4 linked regions of the Homo sapiens genome follow. The main gene of each other region encodes a partner of the protein of the gene in region 3 in a complex. Each region holds a gene or a part of one and is shown on either strand. Other genes may lie near its edges. The genes, in order: KEAP1, SKP1, FBXL17 and BACH1. A codon is read from its position in the direction of its gene.

Region 1 (8,966 bases), on a different chromosome or scaffold from region 3:
AGGAAGTCACTGCAGGCACGGACAACGCTGTCGATCTGGTACATGACAGCACCGTTCATGACGTGGAGGACACACTTCTCGCCCATGGAGATGGAGGCCGTGTAGGCGAATTCAATGAGGCGCTCCATGACCTTGGGGTGGATACCCTCAATGGACACCACCTCCATGCCCTGCTCCCGCAGCCCGTTGGTGAACATGGCCTTGAAGACAGGGCTGGATGAGGCCAGCACCACCTTGTGGGCCATGAACTGGGCGGCCGGTGCATCCTGGTACTTGACCTGCAGTGTGACGTCACACAGCTGCTGGCTGAGCCGCAGCTCGTTCATGATGCCAAAGGCCTGCTTGGTATGATCCTCCAGGGTGTAGCTGAAGGTGCGGTTGCCATGCTGGGAGGGCGTCACCTCCGCCTTGCACTCAGTGGAGGCGTACATCACCGCGTCCCCTGCCCCCTCAGGGCACTGTGACTGCAGGGGCAGGAATCGGCAGCAGGCCCCAGCCCCGCTAGGCCTGGGATCTGGCTGCATGGGGTTCCAGAAGATAAGCAACACCACCACCTCTGGCACTCAGGGACCTGGAGGGGAGAGAGCACAGGGCAGAGGGCAGGGGTTGGGACTGGGCCAGCACCTGCCGGGCCTCGTTTTGCAAGATAAAGCAATTCCTAGGTCAGTTTTCCTGCAAAGTAGGTGAAGCAGAATCCATTTGCAAACTTGCAAACTTCCCCGACCTGATCAACCTGATTGGCCCAAGAGCCCATCTTAAAACATACATGAAGTCATGTCTCTCCCCTGCTCTGGATCCTCCAATGCCTCCCACAGTACCTAGTAAAACTGAACTCCTCAACAGCCTGCAAAGCCCTACGCAATTAGCCCCTGCCACCTCTTCCCTTTGATCACTCTGCTTCAGCAATCTGGCGGCCTTTCCCTTTCTAGAGCATGTTGAGCTCATTCCTTCATTTGCCTCACCATTTACTGGGCACCTACTGTATGCCAGGCACTGATCTGGGTGCTGAAGACACAGCAGTGAGCAAAATACAAAAATCCTACCCTGCCAGAGCTGACAACTGCAGGGAGGAGCAATCATAAACTAAAATAAGCAAGACCTGGAAAAACAGCTTCATGAAGAAAATTACAACAGCATTGTGACAACGTGAGAATCGGGTGCAGTTTGTTTGCTTTTTTTTTTTTTTTTTTCAGATGGAGTCTCTCTGTCACCCAGGCTGGAGTGCAATGGCTCGATCTTGGCTCACTGCAACCTCCGCCTCCCGGGTTCAAGCGATCCTCCTGCCTCAGCCTCCCGAGTAGCTGGGACTACAGGCGTCCGCCACCACACCCGGCTAGTTTTTGTATTTTTAGCAGAGACTGGGTTTCGCCATGTTGGCCAGGCTGGTCTCAAACTCCTGACCTCAAGTGAGCCGCCCGCCTTGGCATCCCGAAGTGCTGGGATTACAGGCGTAAGCCACCATGCCTGACCCGGGGTGCAGTTTTTTAAAATCTGGCAGACCAAGCCTCTTTGAGAAGGTGAGGTTGGAGCTGAGACAAGGATGAAAATTATTATAAAGTGGGAGGCTGGGGAGTAGTTTTCCAGGCAGAGGAAACAGTAAGTGCAGTGGCTCAGAGGCTGAGACAGTCAATCTGGAGAATTGGGAAGGAGTGCAGTGAGAGCTAAGGACTTAAGGAAGGGTTTCATGGAAACCCCTGGATCCTGGAGGGCCAGGAGATGAGTTATGTGTTTTGTGTTTTGTTTTTCGAGACAGAGTCTCGCTCTGTTGCCCAGGCTGGAGTACAGTGGTGCGATCTTGGCTCACTGCAACCTCTGCCTCCCGAGTTCAAGATATTCTCGACCGGGCGTGGTGGCTCACGCCTGTAATCCCAGCACTTTGGGAGGCCGAGGCAGGCGGATCACAAGGTCAGAAGATCGAGACCATCCTGGCTAACATGGTGAAACCCCATCTCTACTAAAAATACAAAAAAATTAGCCGGGTGTGGCGGCGGGCGCCTGTAGTCCCAGCTACATGGGAGGCTGAGGCGGGAGAAAGGCGTGAACCCAGGAAGCAGAGCTTGCAGTGAGCCGAGATCGCACCACTGCATTCCAGCCTGGGTGACAGAACAAGACTCCATCTCAAATAAAACAAAAAAAAGATATTCTCATACTTCGGCCTCCTGAGTAGCTGGGATTACAGGCACCAGCCACCACGATGGGCTAATTTTTTGTATTTTTAGTAGAGATGGGATTTCACCATGTTGGCCAGGGTGGTCTCAACCTCCTGGCCTCAAGTGATCCCCCTCCTCGACCTCCCAAAATGCTGGGATTACAGGCATAGGCTGCTGTGCCCAGACGTGAGTTACGTTTCAAAAGGAGTGGGGGATCTCCAAGTGGCTCCCCACAAGTGGATCTGCAAGTTCTCACTCCCCTCTTTCTGGGACTCAACTCAAAGTCTCCTCTTCCCTGTTTTATTGTCATCACTGCGCTTGTCAGGAACTGAAATGACCTCCTTTGCTTGTCTGTTGATCGACTGTCTCTCGTCCCCGGCCCCAGCGCCTCAAATGGCAGGGAGACCTATGTAGGTCGGCGTCGGGCCAACCCTCTCCTGTGCCTCTCGCCTGGGGCCTGGCACTGCGCAGGGGTCAATAAACGGGTGGTTGGCTAACTGCCCTGCCACCGTGCCTGCCAGAGCGGCCTCCTCCACCCTCCCTGGGTGCCACTCGGCCCCCACTCTGGTGCCAAGGCCCTGGGTTTGCCTCTTGGTCTTTGGCCAATCGGTCAACAATGCCCCTTGGGCACCGGGCACTTCCCCCACCCTACAAAGCGGCAAGTGGGCGACTGCGCATGCCCCTCCTGAGCCTCCACCAGGCCCAGTGAGGCGAGGAAGTGACCCCACCGCGGCCTCTCGGCTGCCAACCCCAGAACGCAGATCGAGCCCCTCAACGCCTCGGAGCCCCCGGGCCTCCTTCTGCGCAGCGCCTCCTGGTTCTCTCGCTCGGTTTCCGCCGCTCCCGGGCCACCCCAAGAGTTGCGCCGTCCAACAAAAATATCCACCCAGGTCGCGCCCTCCTGGCCCTCCGAGTCCTGGCGGGGAACTCGGAGGCGCCCTGGGCCGTGGCGCCCGTTTTCCTGGTCTCCGGGCACGGCCGCAGGGGCGCTCGCGGCCCGCGATGCCCGCAGCCCGGGCACATCCCGCCTCACTCACCCCGCCATGGCCGCGCTCCGGCTCCGCCTCCACCGCCCGAGCCCCGGCGCCTCCATCGCTGCGCGTGGGGGAGGCGCGGAGCGCGCGCAGGTCACCATGACTAAGCAGAGCCGGGCGCCCGCCGTGTCACAATAAAAGTCCCCGGGCCCTGGCCTCAGGCGGTAGGGACCGCTGAGGGGCCGCTCCCCACCCCCGCCCACGCCTGCTGTCGCCCAGCTGCGCGGCCACCACGGCGCCCAGCATGGCGGCGGGGCGGGGGCACGCGACCCTGAGCGCGCTTAGCCGCGTGGTCCGAGTCGCGGGGAGTCTGAACCCCGAGTTCCAGGCCTGCGCGCCCCGGCCCGCACCAGGGGTGGGGTGGACACCCCTCCCCGTCGCTGCTGCCCAAGCGCTCACCTCAGCCCCCAGGTCGCCTCCGTAGGGGGTCCCTCGGGGTGGGGATGGCCGGGGCGCGCAGGGGCTCCGGGCACAGTGATGCCACCCGCGCACTGCGCTTCCGGGAAGCCGGGGGACCGCGACCCAGTCCAGGAGATTCCTGCCTTACCTTGGCTGTAGGGGACCCGCGGGCGCCTCCGCCGTCGGGGGGCCTCGGCTCCAGGGCTGCGTGGCCTGCGGGGTCTTGGTTGTCGGTTGGGGAGCGGCCTCGGGACGCCCGAAAAGGAGGCGGGGAGAGGGCGGAAAGGGCGCGGCGGGAAAGGAGCGGCGATTCTCCCGCCCTTCCCGCAGGTGCCCGGCGCCCGTCGGCGAGGAGTGGGGCATCGGGCGGGGGCGCACAGCCAGGCCCCCCTTCTCACTGTCCCTTCCATCTCCCGATTTCGTTGCTGGATGTCTCCTCGCGGGGCTGCGCGCCACCATCTGCTATTCTCCTTTTAACAACGCACAGCGCCGGCCTCGTGGTCCGGCGGCCGCAGGATCTAGGGAAAATTATCTACCTCGCTAGGTTTTCTTTTCTTTTCTTTTCTTTCTTTCTTTCTTTTTTTTTTTCCTTTAGAGACAAGGTCTCGCTCTGATCTGCACGCCCAGGCTGGAGTGCAGTGGCGCAATCGCGGCTCACTGCAGCCTTGAGCTCCTGGCCTCAAGCGATCCTCCCACCTCAGCCTCCTGAGTAGCTGGGACCACAGACAGGCGCCACCACACCCGGCTAATTTTTAGTTTTTGTTTGTTTGTTTGTTTTTCTGTAGAGATGGGGTCTCGCAATGTTGCCCAGGCTGGTCTTGAACACCTGGGTTTAAGAGATCCTGACTCCATTGGCCTCCCAAAGTTCTGGGATTATAGGTGTGAGGCGCTGTGCCCAGGCCTCAGGTTTTCCTTGTCTTTTTTTTTTTTTTTTTTTTTTAATTGAGACAGAGTCTCTCACTGTCACCTGGGCTGGAGTGCAGTAGCTCGATCTTGGCTCACTGCAACCTCCGCCTCCCGGGTTCAAAAAATTCTGCCTCAGCCTCCCGAGTAGCTGGGATTACAGGCGCCCGCCATCATACCCAGCTAATTTTTTGTATTTTTAGTACAGATGGGGTTTCACCATGTTGGCCAGGATGGTCTCAAACCCCTGACCTCATGATCCGCCCGCCTCGGCCTCCCAAAGTGTTGGGATTACAGGCGTGAGCCACCGCGCCCGGCCTTCCTTGTCTTTATTTTTGATTTACTTCCTATCAAGAGGCGTGTGGCACCCGTCTTTGGGGGGTTCAAACCCTGGATCTGCCTCTTACCAGCTCAGTGCCCGTGGGCGCTTACTTAGTTCTCTATGGTTCAGTTTCCTCTCTATAAAAAGTAATAATATAATAGCACCTACCTACCAGATTATCATTAAGACTAAATGCGGGGCCGGGCGCGGTGACTCACACCTGTAATCCCAGCATTTTGGGAGGCCGAGGCAGGCGGATCACGAGGTCGGGAGATCGAGACCATCCTGGCTAACATGATAAAACCCCGTCTCTACTAAAAATACAAAAAATTAGCCGGGCGTGGTGGCGGGCGCCTGTAGTCCCAGGTACACAGGAGGCTGAGGCAGGAGAATGGCGTGAACCCGGGAGGCGGAGCGTGCAGTGAGCCAAGATCACCGCACTGCACTCCAGCCTGCGCCACAGAGCGAGGCTCTGACTCAAAAAAATAAATAAGTAAATAAAAAATAAAAATATTAAATGCGAATGCTGGCTCCCAAGAGACAGAAACCATTGCTATTTTTCATGACTGGGGATACTGATTTGTCATGCACACCGTTTATCATGTAACGTTAACTTTTAAATAAATGTATGTAAGTTTATTTTAAAGAATTCATCTAGGCTGGGTGCGGTGGCTCACATCTGTAATCCCAGCACTTTGGGAGCCGAGGTGGGTGGATCACGAGATCAGGAGTTCAAGACCAGCCTGGCCAACATGGTGAAACCCCCATCTCTACTAAAAATACAAAAATTAACCGGGCGTGGTGGCGGGCGCCTGTAATCCCCAGCTACTCGGGAGGCTGAGGCAGAGAATTGCTTGAACCCGGGAGGCAGAGGTTGCAGTGAGCAGAGATCGCGCCACCACACTCCAGCCTGTGCAACAGAGTGAGACTCTGTCTCAAAAAAAAAAAAAAAAAAAGAAAAAAAAAGAATTCATCTAAATTTCATCCAAATTATAATTATTTTTAAAAGATAGAGAGGCCAGGCGCAGTGGCTCATGCTTGTAATCCTAGCACTTTGGTAGGCCAAGACGGGTGGATCACCTGAGGTTAGGAGTTCGAGACCGGCCTGACCAATATGGTGAGACCGCCGTCTCTACTAAATACAAAAAATTAACCGGGTGTGGTGGTGGGTAAGTGAAGGTTGCAGTGAGCCGAAATCCTGCCATTGCACTCCAGCCTGAGCAACAGCGCGAGACTACGTCTCGAAAGGAAAAGAAAAAAAAAAAAGATAGATGGGATTTCGCCATGTAAGTGAATAATAAATGGAAACTCTAGGCCCCTGGAGCCTCCAGGGTGAATTTGAAAGATTGAACGTCCTGGCTCAGGGTCTGGAAGGAATCACGTGTAGGGCTACGTTGGAGTTACCCCGCTACCCCAAATCCTTGTTGCGTGTAGATGCAGTTCCAGACAGCTCCTCAGGGGGGCGGCCTAGATAGTCCGTGAACACGCTGAGTGGCCGAGGTTGTAACCAGCGCCTTCCTGGCACGTTGCAGAAAACAACCTCTCTAATATCTCTCAAAATCAAACCTACAGGTCCAGTGAGCCAGGTGCTTGTAGAGATTTATCCAAGGTGCACTCGCACACATACAGGAGGAAGCATGTGCACACATTCATTGCATTATAATGCATATCATGGCAAAAGGACTGGATCCCATTCACATGTCCCTCTGTAGAGCCCTGGCTTAATCAGTGGTGGCACATCCTTGCTAAGAAATACTATGCAGCCAGTTAAAAGGAGCAGTACATTTACTGTATGGATATGTACCTAGATCTTCTATTTTTTCTTTTCTCTTTTTCTTTTTCGATTTTCATTTATTTATTTATTTATTTATTTATTTATTTTTGAGACGGAGTCTCGCACTGTCACCCGGGTTGGTGTGCAGTGGTGTGATCTTGGCTTGCTGCAACCTCTGCATCCCGGGTTCAAGCGATTCTTCTACCTCAGCCTCCCAAGTAGCTAGGATTACAGGTGCCTGCCACCATACCCAGCTAATTTTTTGTATTTTTAGTACAGACAGCGTTTCATCATGTTGGTCAGGCTGGTCTTGAACTCCTGACCTCGTGATCCTCCCGCCTCGTCTTCCCAAAGTGCTGGGATTACCGACGTGAGCCACTGCACCCAGACTCTTTTTTTATTTTATTTATTTATTTTTCTTTTTTTGAGACAAGGTCTTGCTCTGTCACCCAGGCTGGAGTGCGGTGGCACAATCATAGCTCACTTCAGCCTTGACCTCCTGAGATCAAGTGATCCTGCTGCCCCAGCCTCCCAAGTAGCTGGGACTACAGTCACTCACTACCACACCCAGCTAACTTCCCCCCACCCTTTTTTTCTTTCTTTTGTAGAGCTGGGGCTTCACCATGTTGCCCAGGCTGATCTCGAACTCCTGGGCTCGACGGATCCTCCCTACTTGGTCTCCCAGAGTTCTGGGATTACAGGTGTAAGCCACCACGCCCCACCTCTTTTTTTTTTTTTTTTTTTTTAACAGGGTCTTGCTGTCACCCAGGATGGCGTGCAGCAGTGCAATCATGGCTCACTGCAGCCTCGAACTCCTGGCTCAAGCCATCCTCCTGCCTCAGCCTCCCAAGTAGCTGGGACCACAGGTGTATGCCACCACACTTGGCTAAGTTATTTCTTTTTTGTAGAGATGGTGTCTCACTATGTTGCCCAGGTTGGTCTCAAACTCCTGGGCTCAAGTGATCCTCCTGCTTCAGCCCTGCAAAGTGCTGAGATTACAGGCATAAGTCACTGTACCTGACCAGGCCTCTATTTTTTTAATGTAAAAAAAGAGCCAGGCCCAGTGGCTTACGCCTGTCATCCCAGCACTTTGGGGGGCCGAGGCGGGCAGATCACCTGAGGTCAGGTGTTCGAGACCAGCCTGACCAACACAGTGAAACCTCGTCTCTACTAAAAATACAAAATAAGCCAGGTGTAGTGGCGCATACCTGTAATCCCAGCTACTCAGGAGGCTGAGGCAGGAGAATCACTTGAACCCCGGAGGTGGAGGTTGTGGTGAGCTGAGATCGTGCCACTGCACTCCAGCCTGTGCAACAAGAGCAAAACTGCATCTCAAAAAAAGAAGTGCTATGGACCAAATTATGCACCCGTACCCCCTTTTCGTGTGTTGCAGCCCTAACCCTCAATGGAATGGTATTTGGAGATGGGGCCTTTGGGAAGCGATTAGGTCTAGATGAGGTCATGAAGGTGGGAACCTCATGATGGGATTAGTGTCTTTATAGGAAGAGCACACCAGAAAGTGTTCTCTCTTTCTTTTTTCTTTTCTTTTTTTTTTTTTTTTTTTTTTTTGAGACAGGCTGGAATGCAGTGGTGCCATCTCCACTCACTACAACCTCCGCCTTACAGGTTCAAGCAATTCTCCTGCCTCAGCCTCCTGAGTAGCTGGAGTTACAGATGTGTGCCACCACACCCAGCTGATTTTTGTATTTTTAGTAGAGATGGGGTTTCACCATGTTGGCCAGGCTGATCTTGAACTCCTGGCCTCAGTTGATCCACCTGCCTCAGTCTCCCAAAGTGTTGGGATTATAGTCATGAGCTACCTCGCCCGACCTGCTCTCTGTTTCTTTCCCCAACATGTGGGAACACAGTGAGAAAGCGGCTGTCTGCAAGCTCAGAAGAGAGTCCTCACTAGAACACAACCATGCTGACATTCTCTTTTTTTGAGACCATGTCTCGCCCTGTCGCCCAGGCTGGAGTGCAGTGGAGTGATCTCCGCTCACTGCAACCCCTGACTCCTGGGTTCAAGCGATTCTTCTGCCCCAGCCTCCGGAGTAGCTGGGATTACATGCGCATGCCGCCACACCCAGGTAATTTTTTGTATCTTTAGTAGCAACGGGGTTTCACCATGTTGGCCATGCTGGTCTCAGATTCCTGACCTCGTGATCCACCTGCTTCGGCCTCAGTGCTGAGATTACAGGCGCGAGCCACTGCTCCTGGCCTTTTTTTTTTTTTTTTTTTTTTTTTTTTTCCGAGACAGAGTCTCGCTCTGTAATCCAGGCTGAAGTGCAATGTCGCGATCTCAGCTCACTGCAACCTCCACCTTCTGAGTTCAAGCAGTTCTCCTGCCTTAGCCTCCCCAGTAGCTGGGATTACAGGCACCTGCC
Region 2 (8,811 bases), about 26 Mb from region 3:
GTCTCAAAAAAAAAAAACCCCTCTCTAGATTACTTACAATGCCGGATACAATGTAAATGCTATGCAAATAGTTTTTATACTGTATTGTTTAGGGAGTAATGACCAGGAAACAAGTCTACATGTTTAGTGCAAGACACAGCCATCCATTTTTTTTCCCAATATGTTTAATCTGTGGTTGGTTGAATCCACAGATGTAGAACTCATGGATATGGGGGCTGACTCTTATGTTTTGAGACATAGCCTGGTTGGTATAAGTATTATAATGGAATTAGGAAATAGAAACTTTCTTCTGGTTTTCTTAGATTTGGGAATGGATGATGAAGGAGATGATGACCCAGTTCCTCTACCAAATGTGAATGCAGCAATATTAAAAAAGGTAAGGTCTTTAAAGAGTTTAAGTTTATTCTGCTTAATATATAACACCAATTGATTAATACAAGTAATTCAACAATCTATGTTAGAATTTTATAATTTACTGCTTAAAATTACATTTAAATTTGAATGTTCTTAAACACTTACTTGAGTGATGTTTGTATGTTCTTAAAATATACAGAAAAAAGTTCTGTCTGCTTTCTTGCCACAGTTGACTATTGTCATTTATTGGGCATCTGTACTGTGTCTACCTATGCAAACACTTCCCTAGGAAGGATGATCTACATGTAGAATATCTGGATCGCAGGTTGGCTTATATACCTAAATTTTGATAGATACTGTTAAATAGTCTTCTGTAAAGATACCACTTCTAGAGCATGGTGGAATTGAATCGTGACTGTCTTTCTTAGATTTATAATTTTGAAACGGCTAAAGTCAAAGGAATATGTAACACTTTGTTCCCATTTCTGTCCTTATCTATTCCAGTCCCCTTTCAGGTAGCAATTTATCCTTTCAGTATTTTGTAATACAGGTATTAACAAGTAAGTATATTTTTTTCCCACATTCTTTTTTTTTTTTTTTTTTTTTTTTTTGAGACCAGAGTCTTGCTCTGTCGCCAGGTTGGAGGGTAGTGGTATGATCTCGGCTCACTGCAACCTCTGCCTCCTGGGTTCAGGTGATTCTCCTGCCTCAGCCTCCTGAGTAGCTGGGACTACAGGCACACGCCACCATGCCCAGCTAATTTTTGTATTTTTAGTAGAGACAGGGTTTCACCATGTTGGCCAGGATGGTTTTGATCTCTTGACCTCATGATCTGCCCACCTCAGCCTCGCAAAGTGCTGGGATCACAGGTGTGAGCCACCGCGCCCAGCATTCTCCCCCATTCTTAAGGTAGCAAACTATACATTTCTATGTTTTTTTTTTTCCATATAACAAAATGAAAGGTGATATGTCTATGTTAGTTAATATATAGCATCTTTTTTTTTTTTGAGATGGAGCCTCGCCCTGTTGCCCAGGCTGGAGTGCAGTGGTGTGATCTCAGCTCACTGCAGCCTCTGCCTTCCGGGTTCAAGTAATTTTCCCTGCCTCAGCCTCCCGAATAGCTAGGATTACAGATGCCCACCACCACACTGGCTAATTTTTATATTAGACAGGTTTTCACCATGTTGGCCAGGCTGGTCTCCAACTCCTGACCTCAGACGATCTCCCTGCCTTGGCCTCCCAAAGTGCTGGGATTACAGGTGGAGCCACCATGCCTGGCTAACCTGAATTTTTTTGTGTTTGTTTGTTTTTTTGATCTCACTCTGTTGCCCAGGCTGGAGAGCAGTGGCACAATCTCGGCTCACTGCAGCCTCCACTTTCCAGGTTCAAGCAATTCTCCTGCCTCAGCCTCCCAAGTAGCTGGGATTACAGGCACTCGCCACCACGCCTGGCTAATTTTTGTATTTTTTAGTAGAGATGGGGTTTCACCATGTTGGTCAGGCTGGTCTTGAATTCCTGACCTTGTGATCTGCCCACCTTGGCCTCCCAAAGTGCTGGGATTACAGGCATGAGCCACCGAGCCTGGCATTTTTTTTTTTTTTTTTTTGAGACAGACACTCTGTCGCCCAGGCTGGAGTGCAGTGGCACGATCTCAGCTCACTGCAACCTCTGCCTCTTGGGTTCAAGTGATTCTCCCGCCTCATCCTCTCGAGTAGCTGGGATTACAGACACCCGCTACCATGCCCAGCTAATTTTTTTATTTTTGTAGAGATGAGGGTTTCACCATGTTGGCCAGGCTGGTCTTGAACTCCTCACCTCAGGCGATCTGCCTGCTTTGGCCTCCCAAAGTGTGAATGTTTTTACATGTGTTACTGGCCATTTACATTTTCTGCATTGTCTGTTTTCATTTCTCTGTTTTCCTAATGGTCTTAGAAAAATAGTGATAAAATATACATAACATTGATCATTTTCACTTTTTGAACGTGCACCATTCAGTGACATTAATTACATTCACAGTGTTGTGCAGCTATCACCACTAAGCATTTTCAGAACTTTATCATCCCACACTGAAACTCTGTACCCATTAAACTGTAACTTCCAATTTCGGTACACCCTCCCCCCTCAAAAAAAAAATTGGTACACCCTCCCCCCTCAAAAAAAAAAATTACGCTAGGTAAACACTATTCTACTTTCTGTATCTGAATTTAGCTATCCTGGATACATAATATATGGAATCATACAATATTAGTCCTTTTGTATCTGGCTTATTTCACTTAGCATAATGTTTTCAAGGTTCATCCATGTTGTTGTCTAATGAGCTTAAAAAATTGTGGTAAAATACACATAACAAAATTTACCACCTTAACCATTTTTAAGTGACAATTCAGTGGTATTATCTAATAGGCTTTTTATAAGAACTCTTTAAAAGTTTCTACCAGTTTGCTTGTCTTACGTTAATTCATGTTACGATTTAGAGGCTTTATTTTATCTAGTTAGATCTCATTCTTTATGACTTCTGAATATGTCTTGCAATTAACGTATTCTATTTTATACTAATGAAAAATGTTTCTAAAAGGATCTTTGCTTGTAGTCGAATGCCTGGTACATTCAAATGCCATCCAAAAGCTGGGGGTATAGCAGTGAACCAAAGAGACAAAATCTCTGCCCTTATGGAGTTTATGGTCTGAAGGGGTGGGGAATATGCAACATTAGAAATACATCAAATGGAAAAACTATGGAGAATAAAGAAGGGAATGGGGAATTTAAAGGGGTGAGTAGGTGAACAGTTAGCTGTTTTTAAAATAAAGATGGTCAGGAGATGTCTTACTGAGAAGATAATCTTTTTTTTTTTTTTTTTTTTTTTTTTTTTCTTGAGATGGAGTTTTGCTCTTGTTGCCCAGGCTGGAGTACAGTGGCACAACTTTGGCTCACTGCAGCCTCTGCCTCCGGGCTTTAAGCAGTTCTCCTGCTTCAGCCTCAGTAGCTGGGATTACAGGCGCGCGCCACCACGCCCGGCTAATTTTTTGTATTTTGAGTAGAGATGGGGTTTCACCATGTTGGCCAGGCTGGTCTCGAACTCCGGACCTCAGGTGATCCGCCTGCCTCAGTCTCTCAAAGTGCTGGGATTACAGGCTTGAGTCACCATCCCTGGCCGAAGATAATCTTTTAAACAAAGACGTGAATATTTGGGGGAAAAGAATTCTGGGATTTGGGAGCAAGTACAGTGACCTTAAGACAAGAGCATGCCCTGCCTTTTTAGGAAAGGCAAGGAGTTTAGTGGAAGCTAGAGCAAGAAGTGAGTAGATAAGGTCAGAGTTAAAGGGTTGGGTGATGTAGGGCCACTTCTGAGAATGAGAAGTGCTTGGTTTTTGGGGTTTTTTTGTTTGTTTGGTTTGTTTGTTTGAGATAGGGCCTCACTGTGTTGCCTGGGCTGGAGTGCAGTGGTGCAGTCATGGGTCACTGCACCTTCTACCTCCCGGGTTCAGGTGATCTTCTCACCTCAGCCTCCCGAGTAGCTGGGAGTACAAGCACATGCCACCACACTTGGCAAATTTTTGTATTTTTTGTAGAGATGGAGTTTCACCATGTTGCCGAGGCTAGTCCGGAACTCCTGGGCTCAAGCGATCTGTCTCCTTTGGCCTCCCAGAGTGCTGGGATTATAGGTGTGGGCCACCACACCCAGCCGAGAAGTTTTTTTTTTTTTTAAGCCTGTTTGTATTGAATATATATCATATTTTGAAGAATAATTACATGATGCCAAAACTATGGAAGTACAATAAAATCTCCTTTCCCTGTCTCTTATCTGATTGGAAACTGCTCCCCCCACAAAGTAATGTGGCATTTTTTTGTTTTTCTTTTTTACTGGCACCACCCGTTGTGAACCTAGGCATTAGTTTCTTTATATATCCTTTTAAGAGTTTTTTATTTTTAAATTTTTATTTTTTGTTAGTAGTGATAGTGATTTTTTTTTTTTTTTTTTGACAGAATCGCACTCTCTTGCTCAGGCTGGAGTGCAGTGGCACGATCATGGCTCACTACAGCCTCAGCCTCCTGGGCTCAAGTGATTCTCTTGCCTCAGCCTTCTGAGTAGCTGGGACCATAGGTGTGCACCACCAGTCCCATCTCATTTTTGTATTTTTCATAGAGACAGGGTTTCACCATGTTACCCAGGCTGGTCTCAAACTTCTGGGCTCAAGTAAGTCACCCACCTTGGCCTCCCAAAGTGCTAGGATTACAGGTGTGAGCCACAGTGCCCAGCCTATTATTATTATCATCATTTTTTGTAGAGACGGGGTGTCTCTATATTGCCCAGGCTATTCTTGAACTTCCGGCCTTAAGCAGTCCTGCCTCAGCCTCCCAAAGTGCTGAGATTACAAGTATGAACCACTGTGCCCAGGTTTAGAGTTTAAAAAATGCCTGGATAAGCAAATATTGACGTTTTTAAATTTTCTTATATAGTTGGAATACTTCCTAAAAAGCTATTATTTATTTCATTAAAAACCCTTAGCTGGGTGCAGTGGCTCACGCCTGTAATCCCAGCACTTTGGGAAGCCAAGGGGGGTGGATCATCTGAGGTCAGGAGTTCGAGACCAGCCTGGCCAACTAAAAATAAAAAAAAATTAGCTGGGTGTTGTGGCAGGCACCTATAATCCCAGCTACTCAGGAGGCTGAGGCAGGAGAATCGCTTGAACCCAGGAGGTGGAGGTTGCAGTGAGCCAAGATAGCGCCATTGCACTCCAGCCTGGGCAACAAGAGTGAAACTCAGTCTCAAAATTAAAACGAAAACAAAAACCTTTCGCTGGCCAGGCACAGTGGCTCATAGCTGTAATCCCAACACTTTGGGAGGGCAAGGTGGGTGAATTGCTTGAGTTCAGGAGTTTGCAACATGATGAAACCTTATCTCTACAAAAACAAAATACAAAAATGAGCCAGGTGTGGTGGCATGCACCTGTAGTTGCAGCTACTTGGGAGGCTGAGGTGGGAGGATCGCTTAAGCACAGGAGGTCGAGTGAGCCATGATCGCGGCACTGCATTCCAGCCTGGGTGACACAGTGAGATCTTGTCTCAAAAACAAACAAACAACCCTTTGCTTGGCTTTTCCTTATTGAAATTGTTCTTTCTTTTTTTTTTTTTGGATCCTGGCAATGTTTCTTGGCTCTGCCATTTTCTCTCAGCATTGTTTACTCCTCCAACATTTTGCTATGAAAAAGTTTTAGCCATACAGAAAAATGGAAAGAATTACACAGTAGACAACCATGTAGCCACTGCCTAGATTCTACAACTGAAAACACTTTCAGTATTGATTTTGGTCTTTATGCTGGTATGTATAGTCTAAGTAATCAGCTTCCTGAAACTTTATGGAGTAATTATTCTCCTATTAAGGAAATTTTGGGGCTTTTCCTGCTTTGTTCCTACACCAAATAGTCTCACACATGTGTCTAGGGTATTTGGAATTTGCTGGTTACAATATATGTACATATTCAGCTTTTCTGAGGAGTGCTGGATTAGCTTTCAAAGGGGTTATACCAATTTATACTCTCTAGAAGAGTTTGTGTTTCCTTTCCACTATTGCCCAACAATTAGTATCAGTTTCTTGATTTTTTTTCAATCTAGAGAAGTATCTGTAGTGTTAGTTTTGCTTCTAGTAAAGTTGAGCGTTCCTTATGTTTGGCTATTCAGATTTCATTTATTGGCTGTACATATTAACCCATTTCTCTTTAATGATTTTTGAAAGATTTTATATTCTCTCAGCTAATCATTGTTGTACATATTGCAGGTATCTTCCAGTCATTGTCCTAACTTTTCTTTTTGCATAGAAGCTTTTTAATGTAGTCAAGTACAGTACTCTGTCTGCATGGCTTGCTTTTATCTAATAAGATCTTCTCCCTTCTAGGGTTATAATGATTCTTCAAGCTTCATTTTTGTTTTTCAAGCTTGGCTGTTAATGGCTCAAGTCAACCTCTAGCTAGTTATTATTCCAATATAGGGATAAGTTGTCCCAGCAGTGGAATGAGTACCTTGTGACAAAGTGCCACAGAGGAATGAACTTTTGTTGTTGTAGGTCATTCAGTGGTGCACCCACCACAAGGATGACCCTCCTCCTCCTGAAGATGATGAGAACAAAGAAAAGCGAACAGATGATATCCCTGTTTGGGACCAAGAATTCCTGAAAGTTGACCAAGGAACACTTTTTGAACTCATTCTGGTAAGTTTTTAATGTGTAAGATAGCTCTACTCTAGAGCCTTTAAACACTTCTTATAGATTTAAATTTGCTAACTTCATTGACACTGAATTTTAATACTCTCTAAATTCAAATGTAACGCCATATTTAAATCCACATATCAGTAACACACTAAATGTAAATGGTCTAAACACAGTTAAAAGGCAGAAATTACCAGATCAGAAAAGCAAGCTTAGCTGTGCTGTCTGTAAGAAACCCGCTTTAAATATATAGACAGAACTAGGTTTAAAGAATGGAAGAAGATACGGTACACTAACACGAATCAAAAGAAAGCTGGAGTGACTATATTAAAATAGGTTTGGAGGCAAAGAATATTACCAGGGTTAAAGAGGATTATTTCATACTGATAAGGGGATCAGTTTTTTAAAAAGACATAACAATTATAAATTTTTATCTGGCTAGAAGCAGAACTTCCAAGAAGTGAAACAAAACCCAATAGAACTCAAAGAAGTCCACAAAGTGACAATCATAGAGATTTCAGCACCTCTCTCAATTAATATAACTAGACAGAAATCAGGATAACTTGATATAACACTATTGACCAAATTGTCTTAATGGATATTTATAAAATATTATATATATATATATTTTTGAGACAGAGTTTCACTCTTGTCACACAGGCTGTGGTGCAGTGGCATGATTTTGGCTCACTGCAACCTCCACCTCCCAGGTTCAAGCAATTCTCCTGCCTCAGCCTCCTGAGTAGCTGAGATTACAGGCATGAGCCACCATGCTCAGCTAAGTTTTTGTATTTTTAGTAGAGATGGGGTTTCACCATGTTGGCCAGGATGGTCTTGAACTCCTGACCTCAGGTGATCCACCTACCTAGGCCTCCCAAAGTGTTGGGATTACAGGTGTGAGCCACCGCGCCTGGCCTAAAACATTATATGTAATGATAGCAGAATACATATTCTTTTCAAGTGTATATTACCAAATAGACCATGTTCTGGGCCATAAAACAAGTCTCAGCTGGGTGCGGTGGCTCACGCCTGTGATCCCAACACTTTGGGAGGGTGAGGCGGGTGGATCACTTGAGGCTAGGAGTTCAAGACCAGCCTGGCCAGCATGATGAAACCCCATCTCTACTAAAAATACGAAAATTAGGCCGGGCGCGGTGGCTCACGCCTATAATCCCAGCACTTTGGGAGGCCAAGGTGGGCGGATCACGAGGTCAGGAAATCGAGACCATCCTGGCTAACATGGTGAAACCCCGTCTCTACTGAAAATATAGAAAATTAGCCGGGTGGGGTGGCAGGAACCTGTAGTCTCAGCTACTCGGGAGGCCGAGGCAGGAGAATGGCATGAACCCGGGAGGTGGAGCTTGCAGTGAGCCGATATCGCACCACTGCCCTCCAGCCTGGGTGACAGAGCGAGACTTCGTCTCAAAAAAAAAAAAAAAAAATTAGCTGGGTGAGATGGCACCCACCTGTAATCCCAGCTACTTGGGAGACTGAAGCAAGAGAATTGGCTGAACCTAGGAGGTAGAGATTGCAGTGAGCCGAGATCACGCCACTGAATTCCAGCCTGGGTGACAGAGTGAGACGGTGTCTTAAAAAAAAAGTCTCCATTGTAAAAGGATTCAGGTCATACAAAGTATGTCTTCTGACTGCAATGGAATTAGAAATCACAAACAGAAAGGTATCTGGAAAAATCTGCAACTACTTTTAAACTAACACATTTGCAAGTAACCTATGGGTCAGAGAAGAAATAGAAAGTATTTTGAGCTGAGTGGAAGTAAAACACATGAAAAATCGGTGAGATGCAGCTAAAGAAGTACTTAGAGGGAAATTGATGGAATGAAATACCTATATTATTAGAAAAGAAGAAAAGTTTCAAATCGGTGATCTAAGCTTCCACCTTAAACTAGTAAAAGATGAAATTAACTACAAAGTAAACAGAAGAATGAGAATATTAAAGGGCAGAAATCAATGAAATAGAAAACAGGTAAACAATAAAGTCAATGAAACCAAAACCTGTTTTTTAAAATGAGATCAATATAGTGCTATAACTGCTTACGTTTGAACTCTTTAAGTGTGGACAAATATTTTTGCCAAGACCTGATGTGGTATTTGTGTGCATGTGTACACACATACACAACAGTAGTGGCCGTTATTTCACATTTGAGCTAGTATAGTTTGGTTAAGGAAGCAGAAGGATTCAACATTATAGAGGTATAACAAAGAAGGTCACATAAAAGTCTTTCACAGAAGAACTT
Region 3 (4,375 bases):
AATTTAGGACAATGCTTTTCTAGCAGATCTGATTTTTCCCACAAGTCCAGTCTCTTTAGTAGGCCATAAAATGTTTATGATTTGCCCTTGTTTTCTTCCTGGAACCTTTCCCACCTGCTGCCTCTATATAACATACCTTCCTATTAAACTCAGTTACCTCAAGGGCCCTGCTCTTTCCATGCTATCTCATTCCCTCATGCCTTCGCACATACTTTTCTATTTTCCAGGTTGCCTTCCATTCCTTCCCCCAAGCAAAGCTGGTAAATTCCCGCTACTTCTCTAGCCTTCATGAAAATCCTCCTCCTCTGTGGAGCTCTCCCTTCCCAAAGCTGCTGCTCGGCCCTAGATGCGCTCCCCATAATTATGCCCATCATTATATCTATTGTACTCCACTGTTATTGCTAGTGCCCCACAATGTCCCCTTGTTAGGCTGTGAGTAACTTGAGAGTGGGAGTGAGTTCATTTATCTTTAAATTTCCAGTGCCTATACGTATTTGTCACTCAATAAATGTTTTATGAATTTATTTACTTTGGAAAAATAGAATATATGGCTATATAAATGATGACTATTTAGGAAATGGGATTTTAACAACTCATTTGATACGGTTTGGCTGTGTCCTCATCCAAATCTCATCTTCAACTGCAGTTCCCATAATCCCCACGTGTCGTGGGAGGGACCCAGTGGGAGGCAATGGAATCATGGGGGTGGTTTCCCCCATGCCATTCTTGTGATAGTGAGGAAGTTCTCATGATATCTGATGGTTTTACAAGGGGCTTCTCCCTTTGCTTGGTTCTCATTCTTCACTCTCCTGCCACCTTGTGAAAAAGGACTTGTTTGCTTTCCCTTCTGCCACGATTTTAAGTTTTCTGTGAGTCGATTAAACCTCTTTCCTTTATAAATTACCCAGTCTCAGGTATACCCTTTTAGCAGCATGAGAATGGACTAATACACACTTATGTAAATCCTTGAGATTTTAATCTTATCTCTATAATCACCAGCCCAATTAGAACCTCCTAAACTCAGTCTCGTTTATTATTCTGGGTTAGTCAAACCTACATAAGTCTGTAGTGAAACACAGAAATACACAGACCACTGCATGCATCATACCCAACCAGCATTGGGGAGGTCATTTATTGTCTCTAAAATAAAACAAAAGACACAGTGTTTTGTTTCTCTTTTATTGCAACCCACTGCAAGGTCAAAGATTCACGGAAATATAGAAACTACAAACCGGGTGAATTTTCTTTATCCACTCAAAAAGACATTAAAGACAAAGGACCAGAATTTTCCACTACAGCAATATATTTCATAGTCTTTATTCTGAAAATACTGTTGACATTTTGGAGAGAATAAAAAGCCCTGCATTAAACGTGTTCACATGTATTTATGACATTCTAAGCAAAAAAAAGAAACTCTATATTGCCCAGAAAAATTATTTTAAGCCTCATTTCAAAGCATCTAATGAGAACACATTCAACAACCATCACAGGACCACTCAAGGTGATGCTTTTTTCTGGCTGTTTTTTTTTTTTTTTTTTTTTTTTTTTGAGATTAATGCTTTGAGGCTGGATATGGTATTTCTACGGATTTCTACAAATGTACCAAAGCAGTTTTCCAGATTATGTTGCATCAGGCTTTCTGGATTAGTCAACATTTTAGAGAATAAGTGCAAGTCCCCACCCCACCCCCACCCCCCCAAGCTAAAGCATGTTATAGTGCTGTACTTTAGATTCAAACAATGCAACATTTAAAAAAATCAATTATACATTCTGAAACCATTTGACAACCAAACTGTAACACTCCAAAGGTTATTACAACTTTGAACTGAAATGGTACCATCTATATCATAGATGGCTCTCCCTTCTTTTGTCTTTTTTAACTATTTAAAATATAGTATGACATATATAAAAATTAAACTTTTGCATATTCACTCAAGCTACTATTACTATACATACTGTCTTATAAATTAGTTTTGGATTAAAAATCAGTTAAAATATTGTGAAATAAGATATTTCAGTGGTGGGGAAGTGGATATGAAAATGATACAGTTCAATGTGTAAGAAGAAATATAGTTTATTAATGTTAAACAGCTTTTTTCTTACACAAATTTTATTCCCTTCAAATTAAATTAGAAACCCATTTAGTTATGGGAAGAATACTCATGGCGCTTACTGACTAGATTTTCCTAACCGATTGGGATTAAAACAAAAATGCCACATCAGAAACATGTTGACATAATCAAAGGAAACAGTTGTTTACAAAAAAAGAGAATCATTAGAAATCAGTAAATGGCATTCAAATGTAAAGCTATCTTGTTTCTTACAGCTAATGTCATGTTAGCAATGTGAGACTTAAAGAAAGTGAAACTCAAACCTCAGTATATCTGTTAAAGACCAAATAACAGTTATATTCACTCAGGGAAAAATAAATAGCAACTTCACAAGTTAGGGTTTTGTTTCTAGTTCTACTGTGAAAGATAATCACTCTTTAGCTTAAAAAGGCTCCCTGATGTCCTCATTATAAATCTAGACACAGGAACAGTTATTTGAGCCTGAGTCCCTATTATGAATTAATTGTAAAGATGTGTTAAATCAAAACATATATTCATTTACTGATAGGTCTTGTCTTAACTGAAGCTGGCAATCCTTAATTAAACAAAGAAATGCTTATTTCTGACAAGTGTAAACAGAATTTCAATGAACAGATTTTCTAATTTTCTTTCTTAACTCATATATTAGCTAGCAATAGATCTTTGCAGTAGCATGAGAACTAGTCCAAAATGACAACATGCATATATCCAAAAAACCTGTTCAAGAACCCAAAGCAAAGCAAAAAGAGCAACAACAGTAGAAAGATTGTCTACTTATATCTCACTCATGAATCTTCTATTAATGTGACTACCCTCTCGTATCTCAGAAATAGACTTTAATAATTACCAAAATTAAGAAAATAATGAAATGATCTGTAGTTTTTAAAATAACTGCACACCATTAATTACATTGGTGGCTTCAATGCTAAGATTAGTTTCAAATATCATTAAAATATATCCTGACCAGTTACTATCCAGGAAATAAAAGCTAACACAATGTTAACATAAAACCAACTAAAATATTTAGTGCTCAACAGAATGCATTTGTAGAATAATGTATAATTAACTTTCGTGAGCTGGCCAGGAGAGTTCAGACTGTTGCCTCTATATAACAAATTTAGAAAAGGCTTTATTCTTTCTAGTCCCCAAGTCACCCACCAGATAGCAAGTTGGCCACCCGAGGATACACGGAGTTAGGCAGTGCCACAGTGGATAACATGCTACCTTAGTGGCCTGGAAGAAGGCTTCTCTGTCAGGAAACGATCTAGAGTAGATCAGAGCCCTGGTGTAGATGTGCACACGTGTGAATATGTGAGAGAGTGTAAGTGCCTGTACGTATAACATCACTTCTGCTGTAGTCATCATCAGTAGAAGTGCACAATTCATCCCATGTAAAAAGAAGGCCTTCTTACTTGGACATCTCCAAGTGGCAGCAATTAGAAGCTCAAAATAATACATCCAATTTTTTGACTCTATATTAAAAATAATTTTTTTTTAAAGAGAAAGAAGCCTTTGAAGTTAAAAACTAAAAAGTTTGTGGCTTTCATAATCTTTAATTTCTAAGAAAAAAAGCCAGCTCACTTGGGAACAAATGACAACTGCACTTTTGGTATGCAGTATGCAAACAAGACACAAATACACATACTTGAACACACACAGACAGGTGACAGTTAAAACCCTTCCGAGAGATCAGCTCCCCAAATGTACAATTCTCCTCTGCTCTGCTGAATGATCCCAGTGGACTAGGCGAGGCAGGAGCGCTAGGAGGAGGCGGCAGACATGTTGGGGGTCCAGCCCATCTGATAGGCTCTCTCCAAGGTCCTCTTGCAGTCCTGCAGGACGGTGCTGAAGGTGATGTGGGGGTACTGCTGCACCAGCTGTTCCACCGTCACTTCGTTGACCTGCAAACAAAGAAGAGTCACCATCACGCACAGAGACCACCAACACCACGCCGCTGCCCACGCTCACTGATGTGCTGCAGCTGGCTCACTGTGACACGAAGAGCCCTCGCCTTGTTCCTCCTAGCGATGTGAGGAAGGGTTTTGTGAGGAGATATGTGTCCCATTTCATCTGACCTCTCTGATCTCCCAGTAACACACCTGCCCTTAGGGATTTTTAATGTAACATCAAGAAATCAAAAGTGTTTTCTAGAAGCATAAATGACTGTGATTTGTCAAGATCTTAACAATGTCCATTGAAAATCTAGTGCTTGGGAGGTAAAGAAGCAGTAAGATAGCTAATGTGCATTTGACTTCATCATCAACCCGACAGCCTTTTTAGGACAA
Region 4 (8,811 bases), on a different chromosome or scaffold from region 3:
AGAAGTTCTTATATTATTTTATATCGTGAAGCTGAAATTTAAAATTACAAGTATCAAAGAAATACCTATATGGAGAGATATATATGTATACATACACATACACACACACACACACACACACACACACACACACAAATTCTTTTGCAGTATGGGATGCACTATCAGAATTATTCTCCCTGACAAATTCTTGAGTGTACTTATAAAAGCTACTAGAAAATAAACAAGTCCAACTAATTTTCTCTTACAAATAAGTCAGTGACAGAGAGAACATACAAACCACTGAAAATATACTAGCAATATCCTCCCCCTACACCCTGATCAAAAAGGGTAACATTTGACAAATTACTCCAAGACATGAAGACTGGTCCCCATATACTCTCAAGGGCAAGGCCAACTTGCTTCAGACTTGTTCATACACAGTGGGTGGTGGCTGCCCACATTAGCTAGACAAGCCCTGCACTAGGCTCAGGATGCAGTCTATAGAAGTGTCTCTTTCAGCCCTCTGATTTTGGTGAAATCAACACTATAAACTACTCCTCTGTACCATTAAAACTGGGTTCTGCCAATGTTTCTGTGAATGTGAATATATGCATTTTTTTTAATTGCTGAGAAGATCCATAGCTTTCATTTGACTCTCAAACACATCTAACCCCAGCATGGCTAAAAGCCACCGCAAAATGTTATGCGATAGGTGCTCAGTTATCTATTTTGTAACAGGACTGAACAAACACTAAGACTGATCTTTAAATGTCCAAGTTAAAATGATTTGTGTGTCTTTATACCACACCAAATTTGGAGAAGAGAGCAAGGATTCAACCTGCTTTTCAAATGCAAACCCACAATAGAAAAAGATTGAGTTTCATCCTATTTCACAAACCTGCAGAGTTGCTGCAGATACATTTTTTATCTGTTACAATCATTTTTACAAGTGAATAATACGACTTCAAAAACAGGGTGAAAAAAATGAACTGCACTCCTGGTAAAAAGTAAGCAACATTCTTTCCCCGTGATGTCTGGTTTTCTGGCATTGGTGACCCACGGTGGAAAAATGAACAGCTTTACATGTTGGTAAGCTCTCCAGATTCTAGGGAGCCTGAGATAATGCTGCCAGTGTAATCACTCATGCCACTGTATTCTGAGTCCTATTTCTTCTTCCAAAGGGACAAAAATGCCAGGAAATAGGAAGTCCATGATGGGACCAGATATGGTAGAGACTGAAGCGGGGGGCAGGGAGGGAAAGTGACACTTAAATCTATTCATGTAGCCAGACTTTCTAGAGTCCATACTGAAGAGGAGAAGCAGCCCCCGTCTTAGGCCAACCACTTGCCTATTTACTAAATCTTCCCAATGTAGCTTAAAGCCTGATTTTAGGAGCCGAAGAACAAAGCCCTAAGATTCAGGTAAGACCATCTTTTTTTCACAATGCAGCTCTACAAAAATATTCCCAGTAGCTGACACCCTGCTTCTAAGAATAGAACTCTATTAGCATTGCTTGGGAAGAAATTTTCTTTCAAACTAAAATATTAGAAAAAAGTCAAATTATTAAACTTCTGCAGGCCACTTCTTTTAGTAGGAACTATCTGTAGATGTTTCAAGCTGTTAAATTGCTGTCTGATATGCTGCAGTTTTCATTCTCCTACTTATTCTGAATAGCAGGAAGAGTTATTACTAGAGTTATTATTCTTTAAAACATGAGTTTTAAAGGTTTACTACATTTTCACATGGATTTTTCTGATATCCAGGAGGCAAAATCATTTCTTTGTCTCTTGTAGAAATCAAGGAGAAATCATGGTTGACTTAAAGGAAATTCCCTTATGGTAAACTACTAAAGGAAAAAAACAGTATTGTTGAGCAACAGATGGTCATATTAGGCTTTCAAGACGCTGCCAAAACTTCAGGAGAAAATTAGATGGTTTGAAGGAAGTGAATGCAAGTTTACTCATCAGTAGTACATTTATCAGTCATCTGCTGACAGAAATCTGAGATCCCACCACTCTGACGACACTGTTCCGCAGGCCCAGCTTGCTCAGAGGTGGCTGTGGACATCTGCTGGGACTCCTGCCCTCGCGCGTAGCCAGGCTCACTGTTTCCTCTGGCACAGGGAGGCAGCACTGCTGGAGGCCGGTCAGATAAACTGAAAATTGATGGTAACGCCAGTTCACCATCAGGAGTACTTTTATCTTTTTCAGAAATTAAAAATGAAAGTGGGCAATCTGCAGCTGAGTACTTGGCGAGTATCTGTATTTGTTCTTGACTCAGAGCTGCTTCTTTACAAACTTTCTGGCAAAGTCCAGTTAGGTTCTGCTTTGTCTCACCCAGAGTTGACAAAATGTGATCTCTTTCCTTCAACAAGCTCTCCTTTTCACTTTGCTGTGAAGTGGGGAAAGAGAACACAATGGCTTGTGTTTATTAGCTCAATCAACATTTCCAAGGCGATCAAATAATATACAGGGGCTTCTCATCAAGTAAGATCACATGGAGTTTATCCTTTCAATTCCATTCAATTATACATTAAATACTAAAGGCCCAGAATCTCCCACCCAAAACTCTTGGGGCAGATGTATTTTGGCACAAAGCATTTTTCAGGTTTTGGAAAGACAGTATGGGTGCACACATAATTTCTCTAGCAGGCCTGGGGCAGCACTTCCCTATCAACTATCTTTACATTTCTAGGTAAACATTAAAATAGCAAATAATGAAGAAAGTAGGATAAAGACTATGTAGTCTAATGTCAATTTGGGGCAGTTTTTCGGTCAAAAGAGTTTGTGACAAACATACGGTTTTTGGAGCTTTCTGGATTTACAGACTGTACATAACAGGTATGGATGGCATTTTGGATGGGATACAAGAAAAAAAGTAAAAGTACAGTTAGCATAACTTAATTACTGAGACTCAAAGCATTGCAAGATTCAACTAATGACCAGCATTTGTTGAGCAGATTCTCTGACAGATATTGTGCTAAATGTTTTCCAACATGCAATCTCAGCTATGTAATCCACACAACACCTCTCTTGATTTAAGCAACATCAAACCCACTGAAGGGATGGGACTGAATTTAAGATGCCTAGAGACAGCCGGTGGGTGAGTTACTAAAGTGTGAAGAATTCGGGGGGGTAATTTTGTGCTTGCTAATTACCATTTTTGTTATTATTATAATTTTAAGATATTACCCCTATAAGAAAGTCTACCACAGAATTTTTCAAAAGTTTTTCTGGTTCCTGCCTTCCTGTCCATGTCACTTATCACTGCTGACAGCATGTCTTTTCTATTATCATCCCATTTCATCCTTCTTGTTCTAACATCTTATTGCTTCTAATCTATTATGAGCCAGGAAACCAAATAATCAAGGTATTTATAAGAAAAGAGTAAATAAACACTTGCTAGAAAGTCAAACGTTTTTCTTATGAAATTTATCACAACTCTCAACAAGTCAGTGTTGTTCTGTTTGCTTTCTGTTCATTGACAGGTTCTGGAGAGTTGAGGCTGCCAGTTAACCTTGAGACAAGTTAGTTCATAGTGCTAATCTATAAGTGCCATCCTTTAGTCTTTTATGACATAAAAGTCACTAAAAGGGTAAAACGAATTTTGCTTTATACAAAAGTATTGTTATGGTTTTATACAAAAGTATTACTATAAAATTATGTATGAATCCAATTATTGTTATTTCTAAAATATTTTAAAGCCTTGTAATATTTTGAGAAAATATACAATAAATACAAAATACTAAATTTTTATATGGCAAAGTATTCTCCAATCTGTTCAGATTTTTATATACAAGTTCTTTTTTTTTTTTTTTTTAAATAGATGTAGGTCAAGAATGTGCGTGTTAAGTATGTGTATGTAAGCAAAATCAATGTTTGGCCAGTACATTTTCTCTTATGCAAAGTTTATCAGTTGCACTCTTCTGATAAAATGAGTCTGCAGATACTGAAAGGGCAAGAACGGTACCTACTGCTTGTTCACAGTAGGAACCATTAAATGCAATCAACACCCATTTCTTTTTATGGTCTCTCAGAAGCCAATCCAAAGGAGGATGAAAACAAAGCTTCCAGAAGAAAGTGAGAAAGAATCTTTCTTCACTCATGGCAATATTCAGCCATGGACTCCTCTACCAAAGTTGGGATGAATCTATTCTAAACAGCAATAGAAAATTTTCAACTGCTGGTTGGTCTTTTAAATTAAATATGGTTCAACAAAATAAGGAGTACTTGAGCTTCCTCCCAGAAATTAGAACCACTACTTAACCTACAGATACTATGAAGATTACAAATATTTTATGACTTCTGTATCTTAATATCCACATGATCTTTAAATACTCTCACTCCTCCCACCCCACTAAATTAGGGATGACATCATTCTTTAAGTATACAAGATGGCTTGCTTCTTCACAACAACTAAAACAAATAGGCACAGCCCTAGAACTCCACCAGAATTATTTCTATAAATTAAATGTTCCCATCTGTTCCCCTGCACTTTAACTCCTACACAGCTAAGCTTCTAAGCAGTTTCCATTTCACTCTAAGTTTAAGACACATATTTACTATAATAGCAGTCAGCTTAATAACTAAAAGTAAAATACAAGTAATTCAAGTTAATTACTTAATGACATCAGTATTTAAGATACCTCCCAAAGTCACTACTTACAGTCATGAGTGGGACTCACTATTAGTGTCCTGCTACCTATCCCTACAATATATTTCCATTTTCCTATAAAAACAACTGTATAAATCACGTTTGAAGTGCTGCACCTTTAATTAGAGCTATTTCTTAAAAAGGAATAAAATTGGCATTCTGGTACCATTCTGGATTTTATACCAACAAAAAATCTTTACAGGCTGGGCACAGTGGCTCACGCCTGTAATCCCAGCACTTTGGGAGGCTGAGGTGGGCGGGTCATGTGAGGTCAGGAGTTCGAGACCAGCTTAGCCAACATGGTGAAACCCTGTCTCTAATAAAAATACAAAAAAATTAGCTGGGCATGGTGGCACACACCTGTAAACCTAGCTAAAAGGGCAGGCTGAGGCAGGGGAATCACTTGAGCCTGGGAGACGGAGGTTGCGGTGAGCCGAGATTGTGCCGCTGCACTCCAGCCTGGGTGACAGAGCAAGACTCTGTCTCAAAAAAAAAAAAAAAAAAAAACCTTTGCATCTAAATCCTTATTTTGAATAGCTAGTGCACAATATTTATTCAAATATAATTTTTTTAAAGATCATAAATATAACTCACCCAATAAAGATATAGAAGAATTTGGCACCAAAAGTACAAGTGACAATTTTATGATAGGGTAAAGAGTACTCACTGTTAGAAAATGGTCACTAATAGTTCCTTAGTAAGTAAAACCTCTGAACGGCAGTTCAGAGAAATCTGCAAATGGCACTGAGAAATATAAGCAAAAATGCTCATTTTCACTCATAAGATAAAAATAAAAGCTACCACGAGATATCATGGTATCTCACTATCAGACTGGAAAAAACCCAAAAGCTGACAACAAATCTTGACTGAGGGTGTGGACAGACACACACACATATACTGCTGCTGGAAGGCCAAATATGACAATTCCTAAGGAGGGGAATCTGTTAATATCTAATAAAATTATGTATGTATTTACCCTTGATCCAACAATCCCACTTCTAGGAATGTGTCCTAGAGACACAGCTCCTTAAACATGAAACAGTATACAGTTATTCACTGCAGGATCCCAACTGTCCACCCACAGAAGACTGGTTTGAACTGTATTACAGTCACTACTGAGTACTATGGAGCTGGAAAACGAATGACAACCTCTCTGAACTAAGAAAAAATATTTCCTATAAATCAATTCTTAAGTTTAAAAAGTACAGAAAAATGTATATAAAATACTTCCATGCAGCAGGATGGATAATAAGAGTAGACATAAAATGTTAACACATTTTTAGAAAAGAAACACAGGGAAAAAAAAATCCAGAAACTAATGAAAATGGTTACCTATAGGAAGTAGCTATGAATAGGGTATAAGGAGAAGATGAGATCAAGATTTGGAGTATATATTTTTTAAAATATAGTTTTAATGTTTGAACCATATAAACGTTTTACATTCAAAATAAAACAAATTAAAAATGTAGGCCAGGCATGGTGGCTCATGCCTAAAATCTCAGCACTTTGGGAGGCCAAGGCAGGAGGATCGATTGAGCCCAGGAGTTTTGAGAGGAGCCTGGGCAACACAGCGAAACCTCACCTTCACAAAAAAATTACCCGGGCATGGTGGTGCGCACCTGTAGTCCTGGCTACTCAGAAGGCTGATATGAGAGGATTTGCTTGATCCCAAGAAGTCAAGGCTGCAGTGAGTCATGACTGTGCCACTGCACTCTAGCCTGGGTGACAGAGTGAAACCCTGTCTCAAAAAATGTAGAGTAAATCCCAGTAATATAAATAGAAAAAAAAATTAATTGTATGCCAAATTGGTAACACAAATATTTCAAATAACTTTAAAGCTTCACACTGGGAAATATTTAAGCATAAAAAAGCAAATAAATCTCAAATTCTGCTCAATTTGTTTACTGTTAATAGTAATACTGATTGTCTAATTTTCTTACTTTTTATACAGTGTGCCCTCACTTAAAATCATCGACAGGTTTTTGGAAACTGACTTTAAGAGAAACAACGCACACCAGGTCCTCAATAAACATTTTGTTCCACATCCTTTCTTTTTTATTTTATTGTTTATTTATATTATACTTTAAGTTCTAGGGTACATGTGCACAACGTGCAGGTTTGTTACATATGTATACATGTGCCATGTTAGTGTGCTGCACCCATTAACTCGTTTTTTTTGTTTTTGTTTTTGTTTTTGTTTTTGTTTTAAGACGGAGTTTCGCTCTTGTAGCCCAGGCTGGAGTGCAATGGCATGATCTCAGCTCACCGCAACCTCCACCTCCCAGGTTCAAGCGATTCTCCTGCCTCAGCCTCCCGAGTAGCTGGGATTACAGGTTTGCACCACCATGTTGGCCAGGCTAGCCTCGAACTCCTGAGCCACCGCACCCGGCACATTAGGTATATCTCCTAATGCTATCCCTCCCCACTCCCCCACCCGACGACAGGCCCCGGTGTGTGATGTTCCCCACCCTGTGTCCAAGTGTTCTCATTTTTACAACATCCTTTCATTATAAAGTTGATGAGGAAAAAAACTGGTTTCATTATCCATCATTTCATGTTAAGTGAGAACTTACTGTATATTATAAAGGAAACAATACACTAATGTAATTGGAGCCAAAATTTTTCCTGTAAATGATGAGAGATTAAACATAAACACAGAAGTGAAGACAAAAGCTCTATACTGCTAAATTTGGACTGGAAATACTACATAAACTCAGGATTTCTAATGTACTTTTTACTTTCATTTACTGAAGCCTGATATATATGAATTCATGATATAATGAACTTTATTTTATACACAGATGCATATATTTCCTAGCTCTGTCCACTGAAAAAGGCCCAGAAGGAATAATACTCCAGCAGCAGGTAGGCTTTCCAAAGTCCAATATAACTGCTAGAAGAAACCAGGAGTTTTAAAGAAATGGGTGATTCCAAATCTTGAAACAATAGAGGTTAAAAAGTGAGACCATGGCAAGTGCTAGATGGTTATGTCAACAGGACAGGAGCTGGCTTGAACGGGCTCTCCCAGGCCAAATTTGAAAAATGTCAACATCAAAAAGAATAATGACTATTACTTATCCTAACAAATTGAATCAGAAAAAATTAATCCATGAGTCCACTGTGATTCCAAAGAGTGGGAGGGAGGGAAAAGAGAAAACAAGAAAAGGCCAGGCATGGTGGCTCATGTCTGTAATCCCAGCACTTTGGGAGGCTGAGGAAAGCAGATCACTTGAAGTCAGGTGTTCGAGACCAGGCTGGCCAACACGATGAAAACCCATCACTTCTAAAAATACAAAAATTAGCTAGGTGTGGTGGTGGGCACCTGTAGTCCTAGCTATTCGGGAGGCTGAGGCAGGAGAATCACATGAACCTGGGAGGTAGAGGTTGCAGTGAGCTGAGATCACGCCACTGCACTCCACACTCCAGCCTAGGCAACAGAGTGAGACTCTGTTTCAAAAAAAAATAAAAAAATAAAAGAGAAAGAAAGGAAGAACAATCCTTTTTAATCAGGAATACCAACTAAAATAATGTAAATAGAATGAAAGATTTAGAAAAATCATGATTTTGTAATCATGGTAATCACAGTGAAGGTCATCAACATATTCTAAAGGATGCAGGAGTATTGGGGAACGGGATAATTATAAAGTGCCCAAGTAACACATCATAGATAACTAAGCAACACAGGTTGAAAAAATATTACTTTGAAAATGGAGCAATCTGGCACTTCCCAGCTACCCAGGTACGACAATACTGACACTGGACCTCCTGCCTCCCTAGGCGACACAATATAAAGGACAACACCAGTGAATGTTTAAACTCAGTCTCCTCAACTCAAACATTTCCAGTTTACGGGAAGTAAAGGGATGGAGAAATGACTTAAAGCCATGGGGAAGCAATCAGACAAATAACTTAAAGTAAGACATTTATGAGAAATCCAGCCTGGATACTTCAAAAAGTTATTGTCATTAAAACAATGAGAGTACTTGTTCTAGATTAAGAGACTAAACAGGTTTAATCAAATGCATTATACGATGACTGTATCCTCGTTTGAAAAAAAAGCATCTATGAAAGATGGGAAAATCAGAGTAATTTGAATAAAAACTAGATATAATATTTAGGATGTGTTGAAATTCTCAGGCATAATAAAGGTATTAGTCATATCTAAGAATGCCTCTTTTT

What was found.
Region 1: the proteins of FBXL17 (region 3) and KEAP1 are in contact, whole or in part, in a crystal structure (PDB 6W66), measured with the Homo sapiens proteins. Residues at the interface, in NP_001156787.2 of Homo sapiens: Asp395, Arg397, Arg421, Lys423, Asn447, Gln473, Tyr475, Met524, Arg548, Asn572, Cys574, Leu575, Trp577, Glu596, Tyr598, Val600, Ser601, Asp623, Trp626, Lys628, Tyr647, Met651, Arg652, Val676, Leu677, Asp679, Cys680, Thr683, Leu684, Arg686; in NP_036421.2 of Homo sapiens: His59, Thr60, Ala63, Ile66, Met67, Glu69, Leu70, Gln75, Leu76, Gln82, Lys84, Ala90, His96, Val98, Ala101, Ser102, Ser103, Ser104, Pro105, Val106, Lys108, Ala109, Met110, Thr112, Asn113, Gly114, Val122, Ser124, Glu126, Gln163.
Region 2: the proteins of FBXL17 (region 3) and SKP1 are in contact, whole or in part, in a crystal structure (PDB 6W66), measured with the Homo sapiens proteins. Residues at the interface, in NP_001156787.2 of Homo sapiens: Pro319, Asp320, Ile321, Asn322, Leu324, Pro325, Ile328, Lys331, Ile332, Phe333, Ser334, Asn335, Leu336, Leu338, Asp339, Glu340, Cys342, Leu343, Ser344, Ser346, Leu347, Val348, Cys349, Lys350, Trp352, Arg353, Gln364, Arg370, Gln371, Val373; in NP_733779.1 of Homo sapiens: Lys78 (codon at 6,476), Glu79 (codon at 6,479), Lys80 (codon at 6,482), Arg81 (codon at 6,485), Gln97 (codon at 6,533), Gly98 (codon at 6,536), Phe101 (codon at 6,545), Ile104 (codon at 6,554), Leu105 (codon at 6,557), Asn108, Leu116, Asp117, Cys120, Lys121, Val123, Ala124, Ile127, Lys128, Gly129, Lys130, Thr131, Pro132, Ile135, Arg136, Phe139, Asn140, Ile141, Lys142, Asn143, Asp144.
Region 4: the proteins of FBXL17 (region 3) and BACH1 are in contact, whole or in part, in a cryo-EM structure (PDB 8UAH), measured with the Homo sapiens proteins. Residues at the interface, in NP_001156787.2 of Homo sapiens: Asp395, Arg421, Asn447, Gln473, Gln498, Glu499, Met524, Arg548, Cys574, Leu575, Tyr598, Val600, Ser601, Asp623, Trp626, Met651, Arg652, Val676, Gln678, Asp679, Cys680, Arg682, Thr683, Glu685, Gln689, Trp692; in NP_001177.1 of Homo sapiens: Val20, Leu21, Ser23, Leu24, Gln27, Val32, Leu33, Asp35, Phe39, His48, Arg49, Ser50, Val51, Ala53, Ala54, Cys55, Ser56, Ser57, His60, Ser61, Arg62, Val64, Asn72, Thr74, Pro76, His116, Asn117.

Annotation. Positions count from the first base shown.
Region 1 is NC_000019.10:10,499,510-10,508,475, forward strand, and holds the start of KEAP1 (kelch-like ECH-associated protein 1), read right to left. Parts: upstream 3,848-8,966; 5' UTR 3,732-3,847; intron 3,263-3,731; exon of another isoform or gene 3,188-3,262; intron 572-3,187; 5' UTR 525-571; coding exon 1-524. UniProt on the Homo sapiens protein: Substrate-specific adapter of a BCR (BTB-CUL3-RBX1) E3 ubiquitin ligase complex that regulates the response to oxidative stress by targeting NFE2L2/NRF2 for ubiquitination.
Region 2 is NC_000005.10:134,158,735-134,167,545, reverse strand, and holds part of SKP1 (S-phase kinase-associated protein 1), read left to right. Parts: intron 1-302; coding exon 303-376; intron 377-6,415; coding exon 6,416-6,559; intron 6,560-8,811. UniProt on the Homo sapiens protein: Essential component of the SCF (SKP1-CUL1-F-box protein) ubiquitin ligase complex, which mediates the ubiquitination of proteins involved in cell cycle progression, signal transduction and transcription.
Region 3 is NC_000005.10:107,857,870-107,862,244, forward strand, and holds the end of FBXL17 (F-box/LRR-repeat protein 17), read right to left. Parts: intron 3,992-4,375; coding exon 3,851-3,991; 3' UTR 1,166-3,850; downstream 1-1,165. UniProt on the Homo sapiens protein: Substrate-recognition component of the SCF(FBXL17) E3 ubiquitin ligase complex, a key component of a quality control pathway required to ensure functional dimerization of BTB domain-containing proteins (dimerization quality control, DQC).
Region 4 is NC_000021.9:29,335,958-29,344,768, reverse strand, and holds part of BACH1 (transcription regulator protein BACH1), read right to left. Parts: intron 2,371-8,811; coding exon 1,936-2,370; 3' UTR 1-1,935. UniProt on the Homo sapiens protein: Transcriptional regulator that acts as a repressor or activator, depending on the context. Binds to NF-E2 DNA binding sites. Plays important roles in coordinating transcription activation and repression by MAFK.